Linked DNA regions of Homo sapiens: all the other regions are linked to region 2. Evidence: fine-mapped expression QTL. A gene starts in region 2. Each other region holds a variant in brackets. All regions are shown on one strand. Distances are between the middles of the regions.

Evidence for each region. PIP is the estimated chance that this variant, and not a neighbour inherited with it, causes the effect.
Region 1: its variant is the best candidate, but not a certain one, in a credible set for the expression of CARM1 in blood mononuclear cells (TOPMed, PIP 0.50).
Region 3: its variant is the best candidate, but not a certain one, in a credible set for the expression of CARM1 in whole blood (TOPMed, PIP 0.57).
Region 4: its variant is the best candidate, but not a certain one, in a credible set for the expression of CARM1 in whole blood (TOPMed, PIP 0.80).

Annotation. Positions count from the first base shown.
Region 1 is chr19:10,931,402-10,934,062 of GRCh38, reverse strand. No RefSeq gene overlaps it. Among named protein-coding and RNA genes, the nearest start is that of TIMM29, 3.9 kb to the right of the region's middle. The variant G/A (reference allele first, on the strand shown) is at 1,209.
Region 2 is chr19:10,870,370-10,873,051 of GRCh38, reverse strand. It overlaps CARM1 (coactivator associated arginine methyltransferase 1), which reads right to left and starts at 1,499. Exons shown (of 16, transcript NM_199141.2): 1 at 1,130-1,499. The coding sequence starts at 1,349. RefSeq lists an enhancer at 50-229 and silencers at 970-1,179, 1,270-1,319, 1,450-2,239.
Region 3 is chr19:10,845,683-10,848,364 of GRCh38, reverse strand. It overlaps a transcript of C19orf38 not described here. Among named protein-coding and RNA genes, the nearest start is that of C19orf38, 1.4 kb to the left of the region's middle. The variant T/C (reference allele first, on the strand shown) is at 1,308.
Region 4 is chr19:10,914,827-10,917,508 of GRCh38, reverse strand. It overlaps CARM1 (coactivator associated arginine methyltransferase 1), which reads right to left. Exons shown (of 16, transcript NM_199141.2): 7 at 1,012-1,102; 8 at 732-813. Among named protein-coding and RNA genes, the nearest start is that of YIPF2, 12 kb to the left of the region's middle. The variant G/A (reference allele first, on the strand shown) is at 1,221.

The sequences.
Region 1 (2,661 bases), 61 kb before region 2:
GCCTCCCGGGTTCACGCCATTCTCCTGCCTCAGCCTCCCGAGTAGCTGGGACTACAGGCACCTGCCACCACGCCCGGCTAATTTTTTAAATATTTTTAGTAGAGACGGGGTTTCACTGTGTTAGCCAGGATGGTCTCGATCTTCTGACCTTGTGATCTGCCCGCCTCGGCCTCCCAAAGTGCTGGGATTACAGGCGTGAGCCACCACGCCCGGCTTTATATATGTATTTCTATATCCAATTTTTATTTATGGCAACTGATAGCAGTATTTAACTATTTCTGACAAGAATTATTAGGATCAAAGTCCACAAGTTTGAGGATTAAGTCACAGAGCTGGGAGTTACAGTTCGAATCTTGGTCCTGCCACAGCCTTGGAAAAATAAATTTTCTGAACCTCAGCTTTTCCTCTGTAAAAGTGAGATGCTGACTTAAACCAACACCTGTTCAACCCACTGATTATGAATGCAAGGGTCAAATGCCAAAATTTGAAAGTAGCAAACACACAAAAACAAGTATCACAAACAAAGATAGTTGTTTTACCACCTGGTTTTATTAACTTGCCACAGGCCCCTGAGGTAGCATCACTCCCTTAATACTTCAGTTTTATGTTATTTATTTTTTCTCTTTTTTTTTTTTTGTGTGACGGAGTCTCACTCTGTTGCCCAGACTGGAACGCAGTGGCGTGATCTCGGCTCACTGCAACCTCCACCTCCCGGGTTCAAGTGATTCTCCTGCCTCAGTCTCCCAAGTAGCTGGGATTACAGGCGTGCGCCACCACGCCCAGCTAATTTTTGTTAGACGGGGTTTCACCATGTTGGCCAGGATGGTCTTGAGCTCTTGACCTTGTGATCCACCCACCTCAGCCTCCCAAAGTGCTGGGATCACATGCGTGAGCCACCGCATCCAGCCTTATTAATTTTTTGAGACGGGGCTTGCTCTGTCACCTAGGCTGGAGTGCAGTGATGCAGTCTTGGCTCACTGCAGCCTCAACCTCCCAAGCTCAAGCAATTCTTCCACCTCAGCCTCCTGAATAGTTGGTAGTACAGGTGTGTACCATACCCGATTAATTTTTGTGTATTTTGTAATTTTGTGTATTTTGTAGAGACAGGATTTCACCATGTCGCCTAGGCTGGTCTCGAACTCCTGGACTCAAGCGATCCTCCCACCTTGGCCTCCCAAAGTGTTGTAGTTACAGGTGTGAGCCACTGC[G/A]CCGGCCATAAATTACACTTAAAAAAAATAAAAAGTATTGAGGCCGGGTGTGGTGGCTCACGCCTATTATCCCAGCACTTTGGGAGGCCAAGGCAGGTGGATCACAAAGAGTTCAAGACCAGCCTGGCCAAGATAGTGAAATCCCGTCTCTACTAAAAATACAACAATTAGCCGGACGCAGTGCCAGATGCCTGTAATCCCAGCTACTTGGGAGGCTGAGGCAGGAGAATCGCTTGAACCCAGGTGGCAGAGGCTGCAGTGAGCCGAGATCATGCCACTGTACTCCAGCCTAGGCAATAGAGTGAAACTCTGTCTCAAAAAAAAAAAAAAAAAAAAAAAAATATTGGCCGGGCGCAGTGGCTCACACCTATAATCCCAGCACTTTGGGAGGCCGAGGTGGGAGGATCACTTGAGGTCAGGAGTTTGAGACCAGCTTGGCCAACATGGTGAAACCCCATCTCTACTAAAAATACAAAAACTAGCTGGGCATCATGGCATATGCCTGTAATCCCAGCTACCCAGGAGGCTGAGGCAAGAGAATCACTTGAACCTGGGAGGCAGAGGTTGCAGTGAGCCGAAATCGTGCCACTGCACTCCAGCCTGGGTGTCAGAGTGAGACTCTGTCTCAACAACAACAACAACAACAAAAATACAATTTACCATAACCTAGCTAAGTACCAGCTGTGTACACTAACTTACTTCTTTTCATAGAATTCTGTTTCAGGGTTACTGAAGTACAACATAACCAGAATCTATGATTCCATATAGATTTCCAGACCAGAAAATGCTTTATCCTTCCAAGCCACCTCCAGTAACTTACAATGCTCATCTGGTAAACAGGTTGTTTTACAAAAAACTTCCCTGTAACATCCCAATAGTCATGACACTGTCAATTGCCTGGTTTTGTATTTTTAATAGGGAACGAGGGCCGGGCACGGTGGCTCACGTCTGCAATCCCAGCACTTTGGGAGGCTGAGGCAGGCGGATCACCTGAGGTCAGGAGTTTGAGGCCAGCCTGACCAACATGATGAAATCTCATCTCTACTAAAAAATACAAAAATTAGCCGGGCGTGGTGGCATGCGCCTGTAATCCCAGCTACTTGGGAGGCTGAGACAGGAGAAACGCTTGAACCCAGGAGGCGGTGGTTGGGGCGAGTGCCACTGCACTCCAGCCTGGGCAACAAGAGCGAAACTCTGTCTCAAAAAAAAACTTAAAAAAATCAAAACAAAAATGTTACTTATTTATTTATTTTTTTGAGCTGGAGTCTCACTATGTTGCCCAGGCTGGAGTGCAGTGGTGCAATCTCTGCTTGCTGCAAGCTCCACCTCCCGGGTTCACGCTATTCTCCTGCCTCAGCCTCCTGAGTAGCTGGGACTACAGATGCCTGCCACCACGCCCAGCTATTTTTTTTTTTTTTTTTTTTTTGAGACGGAGTCTTGTTCTGTCGCCCAG
Region 2 (2,682 bases):
AGCAAAAAGAGACGGCACCCTCGGACAGCAGACACAACTCCTTTAGTCCACGTTTTCAAAGTCGAGGTGCAGGGAAAACCCAGTGTGAACGGACTGCTCCTCGGGCTTTCCTTTAATCGGGCCGTTTCCAAAGTGGCAAAAAATTCACACAGGACCCAAGCTAGCTAGAGGCCTCCTGAGGGGTTCCCCAGGGCATCAGTGCAAGAAGCCCTGAAAGACAAAGCCAAATGACACAGAGTAGCAAAATGTGAACAAGGAATCAAAGAGAAGAGATAAGAAGGAGTAACAAGAAGAAGAATGAACTACAAAGACTGGGAGCGGGGGTGGGGGGTGCTGGCAAACGCATTTGTGATTTTCTTTTCCCCCCAGTGAAATGTCAGTTTTGAAAGCAGCTTCGGAAAATGTAACCAGCTTCTCACATCCCCCAAAAGAAGATGGGAGGAGGCTGTTAGCTCTTACTTCGAAGCCCGGCATCAGGAAGGGGCCCGTCCCGTCCACGTTTCCACGAGGAGCTCACCCTGCGGCTCCCACCGTCCCCGCATGGGCCCTCTCCCCAGATCCTGAAGTTTCCCATTCGGGGGTCCTGAACGCCACACCTCGCACAGCGGTGGAACTCGGTACTCGCGGGCGCCCCAGACCAGCAAACACTTTCCAACCGTCCTGAGCTATCCAGGGGGTCCCCAGAGGGATCCCGGGCCGCCCACGCCCCACCCTCCTCCCTGCAGAGGCGGCCACGCCCGCCCCCGAGACGCCCACCTCTCCCGCACCCCGGACCTCCCTCCCCCACGCTTAAGCCCACCACGCCTGGCGTCCTCCAAATTCCCCTTCCACTCAGAGCCCCCCACTTCCTGCTCACCCACCCCTCCCAAATCTCAGGCCCTTCACTCCCCATTTCGCGCTCCCTTGCTCACTCTGGGCACCTTGCCCCTCCGGCCACCACGCACGCCCTCTTTTCTCTGTCTGTCCCCTGGCACCGGCCCTCCACGGTCGCTCCCTGCAGGCCACCGGCTCAGTCCCGGGGACCCCACGCCAGGCCCCCGCGCTCAGGGCCCCTCCCCGCCGGCCCCCGCCCCGGGCCGGCCTCGTGAGCAGCCCCGGCCCTGCGCCTGCCCCGGGGCCCCGTACTCACGGCTGTAGAGGGCGATGCCCGCCGAGTCCGGGCCGGCGCGCACCTCGAGGCGCAGCGCCTGCTGCTCCGCGTGCCGCTGGATCTCGCCGTTCGCGTCGCCGATGGTGAGGAGGCGGGCGCCGGGGAACACCGACACGGTAGCGCAGGGCCCCGCGCCGCCCGGGACCGCCGACCCCGCGCCGCCCGCGCCCGGCCCCACCGCCGCCGCCGCCGCTGCCATCTTAGATCCGGCTCCAGGCCCCGCCGCCGCCGCCGCTGCGCCCGGGCCCAGGCCGCCGCCGCTGCCGCCGCCGCCGCCGCCGCCGCCGCCGCCGCCGCCGCCGCCGCCGCCGCTGCCGCTACCGCCGCCGCAGCCGCCGTGCAGGCCGAGGCCGAGCCGGGCAGCGCCGCCTGCCGGCCACGCGCCGCCTCGCCGCCGCCGCCGCCACCGTCGCCGCGGCCCGGCCCCGTGGCGCAGCGCCCTCTGCCGGCCGTCCTGGGCGCGGGGAGCTAGCGAGCGAACGAGAGGGCACCCCGTGGGGCGGGACCGGCTACGCCCCGCCCCGCGAGAACGGTCGCCGCTTTGTGAGGTGGCTCCACCGCCCGGGAACTGCGGGGCGGGAGGGTACGTCGGGGGCGGTGCTCGGGCGCGCGGGCACGCCCCTCGGAGGCCTGGGCCCCGCCCCCAGGCCGGCGCCTCATTAACGGCTGCTTTCGAGTGAGGCGGTGCGGGGACGGCGGGGGCGGTGCTCGGCCGCGTGGACACGCCCTGTACCCCGCCCCACACAAGCAGCCGCGCGTCGTGATGCGGCTTCCCTGCCCCGACCTGGACACGCCCCTGAGACTGGGCCCCACCCCCCCGGGCCCGCCCGGCTTTGTGAGGCAGCCCTCAGGGAGGCGTGGCCCAGCCGCGACGAGGCCCCGCCCCCGTGCCTGCCCGCGCCCTCCCACCCGGACTCGCTTTGTCAGCCGCCCCGCTCTGGGGAATGGGCGGGGGAAAGGGCGTGGCCAGCGCCCGGGCCTCGCCCCCAACCCTTCCCCCCACCGCCCCCGCACCGACGATTTCCGATGAGCCCTGGCCTCCAGGAGCAACCTGAGCCCGGTTGAAAGGACCCCTCCCCGACATTCGACCGCTCCTCCTCCCTTCCCCATCATCTCTGCCCACATTGCCTTCTTAATCCTTAATGTTTGACTGTCTCCTTTCGCACAAGATATCCTTTGACCCCCTCCTCTCTCAGCCCCTCCTCCAACGATGCTGAGTCCAGCCTGGCCCGGCGCAGGGCCCCTCTCCCGCCACACAAACCCGTCTTCTCTCTGCATCCCCCTTCATTTTGGGTGGCCCCATCTCTTTTGGGCGACCCAGTGAGCTTGGGCCACTTCCTAGCACTCCAGCTTTAACTCTTCCCTAGACCTCATTTACGCCTCATTCCTTTTTTTTTTTTTTTTTTTTCTTTGAGACGGAGTCTCGCTCTGTCTCCCAGGCTGGAGTGCAATGGCTCGATCTCAGCTCACCGCAACCTCCGCCTCCCGGGTTCAAGTGATTCTCCTGCCTCAGCCTCCCGAGTAGCTGGGAC
Region 3 (2,682 bases), 25 kb after region 2:
ACACACAGGCTTGGGCACTGAAAGGGACTCTCTCCCCTCCCCACCCCTTCCCCAAACACACATCAGACCCGCGCACCTCTCTGGTTGCGGTTCTGCAGATTAGAGGGGAAAAAAATGGATGAGATGTTTAGGTGGTTTTCACAATTTTTTCCTCTTTTTTTATTTTTATTTTTTGAGACAGAGTCTTGCTCTGTTGCCCAGGCTGGAGTGCAGTGGAGCGATCTCGGCTCACTGCAGCCTCCACCTCCCAGGTTCGAGTGATTCTCCTGCCTCAGCCTCCTGAGTAGCTGGGACTACAGGCAGGAGCCATCATGCACAGCTAATTTTTGTATTTTTAGTAGAGACGGGGTTTTGCTGTGTTGGCCAGGATGGTCTCGATCTCTTGACCTCATTATCTGCCCGCCCCAGCCTCCCAAAGTGCTGGGATTTCAGGCGTGAGCCACCGTGCCCAGCCTTTTGTCTCTCCTTCTAAGAGAACTCCTGGGAATGAGACAGGGTGACAGCAGTGGGATGTTTGGAAACCCATGCCCAAGACACAAACCATAGCCTAACCAGCACCAACATTTAAACAAATATGGGCAGGAGTGGGAGGACATGGTGGTTAGGGCTTGGCCTCTGTGACCTCAGGCATGGCTTACCTCCTTTGAGGCTTCAGTATACTGCTCTGCAGAATGGGGCTAAGAGTAGTAGACATTAGGCCAGACGTGGTGGCTCACGCCTGTAATCCCAGCACTTTGGGAGGCTGAGGTGGGCAGATCACCTGAGGTCAGGAGTTCGAGACCAGGCCAACGTGGTGAAACCCCGTCTCTACTATATACAAAAAATTAGCCGGGCGTGGTGGCACACGCCTGTAATCCCAGCTACTCGGGAGGCTGAGGCAGGAGAATCACTTGAACCCAGGAGATGGAGATTGTGGTGAGTTGAGATCGCGCCATTGCACTCCAGCCTGGGCAACAAGAGTGAAATTCCATCTCAAAAAAAAAAAAAAAAAAAAAGAGCAGTGGACATTAGATTCAAAGAACTTGTAGTAGGAAATGCAACGCCTAGTGGGTAGTGCATGCTCACAAGGTAAAGTTACAGGGAGGAAAAAGACTCAGAAGTTTGATCAGCCACATGAAAGGGAATACCAGTTCCAGATCAATTCTGGATATAGTTTGTGATATAGTTCACAGGATAAACTGCCTCCTGTTTACAGCCCAGAAACTTCCAAGTTTCTCTTACTACTGGGTTTGCATTTATCTTTTTAAACATTTCTGTTCAAGCCAGTCAGGTTTGCTTGGGGGTTTGGACCCAAGAAGGATGTGGCA[T/C]GTGGTCATCAAACACCAAAATGCGTCATTAGAGTAAACTTTTTTCTTTGGACACAGAAAGTTCAATCCAACCTCAGGGCCTTTGCACACACTATTTCCCTGGCCTGGAACACAATTCTGTCAACCTGGTCAAATCCTGCTTCTCCTTCAGGTCTCAGTTTAAATAGCACTTCTGGGAAAACTTTCCAGGCCCCTCTGGACTTAGAACAATCCCCTAGCTAAATTCTCCCACAGTGCCCTGTAATATTCCTTTATTGCAATTGGCATGCTTGTATCTTCAAGGAATTTGCTCATTTCATCAGAGTTGTCAAATGTATTGGTGTAAAGTTATTTATATCCCCTTACTATCCTTTTAATGTCTGTAGGGTCTGTAGTGATGTTCCTTCTTTCATTCCTGACACATAAATTAGTGAAGTCTCCTTGTCTCTTATCGGTCTTCCTAGGAGCTAATCATTGTTATTGATCTTTTCAAAGTGCCACAGTTTGGATTTGTTGTTTTATTTTCTATTTTATTGCCTTTTGACTTGACTTTATTCTTTTCTTTTTTCTGGTTACCTTATGTTCAATTGGCTCTTCTTTTCCTAGCTCATGTTTTGTTTTTAAATTTAAACTTCACCAGCAGAAATTTGTATTAATAGCTTCTTAAGATGGATGCTTATATAAACTCTTTTTATTAAAAAAAAATTTTTTTTAATTAGCCAGATGTGGTAGTGGGTGCCTGTAGTCCCAGCTACTCGGGAGGCTGAGGCTGGAGAATGGCGTGAACCCGGGAAGGAGAGCTTGCAGTGAGCTGAGATCATGCCACTGCACTCCAGCCTGGGCAACAGAGCGAGACTCTGTCTCAAAAAAAAAACAACAAAAAAACATTTTTTTTTTGAGACAGGGTCTTGCTCTATTGCTCAGGCTACAGTGAAGCAGCATGATCATGACTCACTGCAGCCTCACCCTGCTGGGCTCAAGAGATCATCCCATCTCAGCCTCCTGAGTAGCTGGGACTACAGGTGTCCACCACCACACCTGGCTAATTAAAAAAAAAAAAATTGTAGAGACAGGGTCCTATTATGTTACCCAGCCTGATCTTGAACTCCTGGGCTCAAGCAATCCTCCTGACTCAGCCTCCCAAAGTGCTGGGATTACAGGCAGCTCATTAACTTTAAACCCTCTTTTTTTTTTTTTTTTTTGACGGAGTCTTGCTCTGTCGCCCAGGCTGGAGTGCAATGGCGTGATCTCGGCTCACTGCAAGCTCTGCCTCCCAGGTTCACGCCATTCTCCTGCCTCAGACTCCTGAGTAGCTGGGACTACAGGCACCCACCACCATGCATGGCTAATTTTTTGTATTTTTAGTGGAGATGGGGTTTCACCATGTTAGCCAGGA
Region 4 (2,682 bases), 44 kb before region 2:
GAATAAAATGGAACCTTTTTTTCTTTTTTTTTGAGACGGAGTCTCACTCTGTCGCCCAGGCTGGAGTGCAGTGGTGCGATCTCGGCTCACTGCAAGCTCTGCCTCCCGGGTTCACGCCATTCTCCTGCCTCAGCCTCCTGAGTAGCTGGGACTACAGGCGCCCGCCACCACGTCTGGCTAATTTTTTGTATTTTTAGTAGAGATGGGGTTTCACCGTGTTGGTCTCAATCTCCTAACCTCGTGATCTGCCCGCCTTGGCCTCCCAAAGTGCTGGGATTACAGGTGTGACCCACTGCACCTAGCTTTTTTTTCCTTTTGATTTTTAAATCATGGATCTATGTATCAAAAATCTCAAGTAAAATCAATCAATAAATCACATCAGCTCACCAAGGATAAATTCATCTAGTAATGGTTCTTTTTTATTTTTATTATTTATTTATTTTAATTTTAAAAATAGCGATGGCGTCTCTGTGTTGCCCAGGCTGATCTTGAACTCCTGAGCCTAAATGCCCCCTCTGCCTTAGCCTCACCTAATAATGTTCCACATGTATTGCATGTGTGCTGTGTGCTAAGTGTCTACATGCATTGACACTTTTGGCCCAAATCTCTGTGAGAGCGCTGTGCAGGGCAGAGGAGAGGGCTCAGAGAGGGGCTGTAGCTTCCTGAGGGCTGCACAGCTGCACAGCAATGGCAAGTGATCACTGCAGCAGTACCCTGGAGGCCCTACTCACCACCACAGGCTGCCGGAAATACTCATCCACCGCGGCACCTCGGAGGGCCGACAGGTCCACTCCATGGAAAGATGGCTGGTACCTGTGGACAGGCCCCACCCCCACAGCAAGGTCAGGGCTGCAGAAGAGGCAGGTGGGGTAGCCCTGCCTTCTCTCCCAGTCAGCCCTCATCTAGCCCAAGTCTTTCAGAAAAAGAGGAGTGCAGGCTCTCTGGGGAGCTGGGGCTGTCCCTGAGAAGGCAGGCTGTGGGGCCCAGGCGGGACACCCAGGGCACACTCACCAGAAGTTGGCCTTGGTGAACTGCTCCATGTAGAGCTGTTCATCCGTGAAGGGTGCAAGGTGGACGTCACCAATGGTAGGAAACATGTTTCCTGGGAGTGGGGCAGGGAGGGGTGCTGGCGTCAGGTGACACATCCCACACTGCCTGGCAGAGCTTCCAAAGGACCCCAAGACCCCCAACCCTGGGTGCTCCCAGCCTGTCATCCATTC[G/A]TTCCTGCACTCCTGTGACAGTGGCACCGAGCGCCTATTCTGATCAGTGTTTCATCACCACCACGGGTACCTGACCTGCACCAGCTCACGAATTCCACCTGAGACTGGGAGGCTGGTGGCTCATCTTTATGTCCTATTACTAGACCTGGCAGGTGTGAGGGACCTGCCAAAGACTCACGGGGAAGCAGGCAGTGCCCGGGATGTGGCCAGGCGCTGCCTCTCAGGCCCTGCCGTCTGTGCATGTGTGCAGCCGGGAAAGCATAGCAAAGTTGCTCTGGACAGAGGGAGGGTGGTGGGCCCCGGGCTACCCCAACGCCGCTGGGGACCTCAGTTGAGGCCAAGAGCCAGGTGGGGGAAGCCAAATCCACACCACAGGGACTGCCTAGGTTCTGGCACAGGCACCCAGCCGGCAGGATGGGCCACTTGGCCTGCCTGGTCTGGGCACACAGACTGAGGGAAGGGCAGGGCCTCCCTCTGTGACTCAAGGGTAGACGCATGAGTCAGGGCCAGTGGCAGGGAGGATCAGGGCCCCGCAGCCCCGCCTGCCCCAAGGAGCACCTGGCCTCCAGATGTGGGCCCCCCAGCCTTGCAAGCTGGGGGAGGAGATCCTGAGGTATCAGTGGGACTCTGCCTCCTCCTTACGCCACCAGGCTGTACCCGAGGCGAGAGCTGCAGGGCTGCAGCTGCTGGAACGGGGAGGGAGATGCACATGCTGCGGCTTCTGCCCTGGGGGACCTGGGGGCACCATGGGAAGTGACCCAGCCTGGAAGGAACCTCTGGCTCCTGCTGACCAGAAGACATGTGACTGGGAGAGGGGAGGGCTGCCTTTAACCCCTGGAAGAGCTTCCTGAGCTGGACAGGAGTCCTCCTTGCACAGGCCTGGCCTCCCCCCTCCCTGCAAGCTGGCTGCTGGGACGTCGGGGGCACATGCAGCTGCCCACAGAGCCTGACTGCCATCTGGCTTCATGTCCCATCGGGAGGGGCCCTCTCTGCTGGGGCTGTCCCCACCCCCATCCCCACCATCAGGGCAGAAGGGGAGGAGAGTGGGGCCCACAGCCCCTGGAGCAGCCTTGCTTCCCATACTCACACCCAAGACATGAGACACAGCTGTGGGACGCCACCTCCCACCTCCAGGAGCACAGCCAGCCAGGACCCTAGGGCCTGGATCCAGGGCGGGCCAGAGATGAGAGTGGAAGCTTCCCCCCTGCCCCTGCCTGCACAAGCCCCACCAGCCTGCTGCTGCCCACGCTCCATCCCATGGCTGCTACCCTGGCTGGGGACCTGTACCCTGCCACACGCACACACAGCTGCTTGCCTGTACAGAAATGCTCAGACGCTCACATACCTAGCATGAGAAGAGCCACAGGCACATGCCTCAGGCGTCAGGGCTGCACAGACCCCAAGACAGATGGGCAAATAGAAACAGTCACCCAGGCCAGGCACAGTGGCTCATGCCTATAAT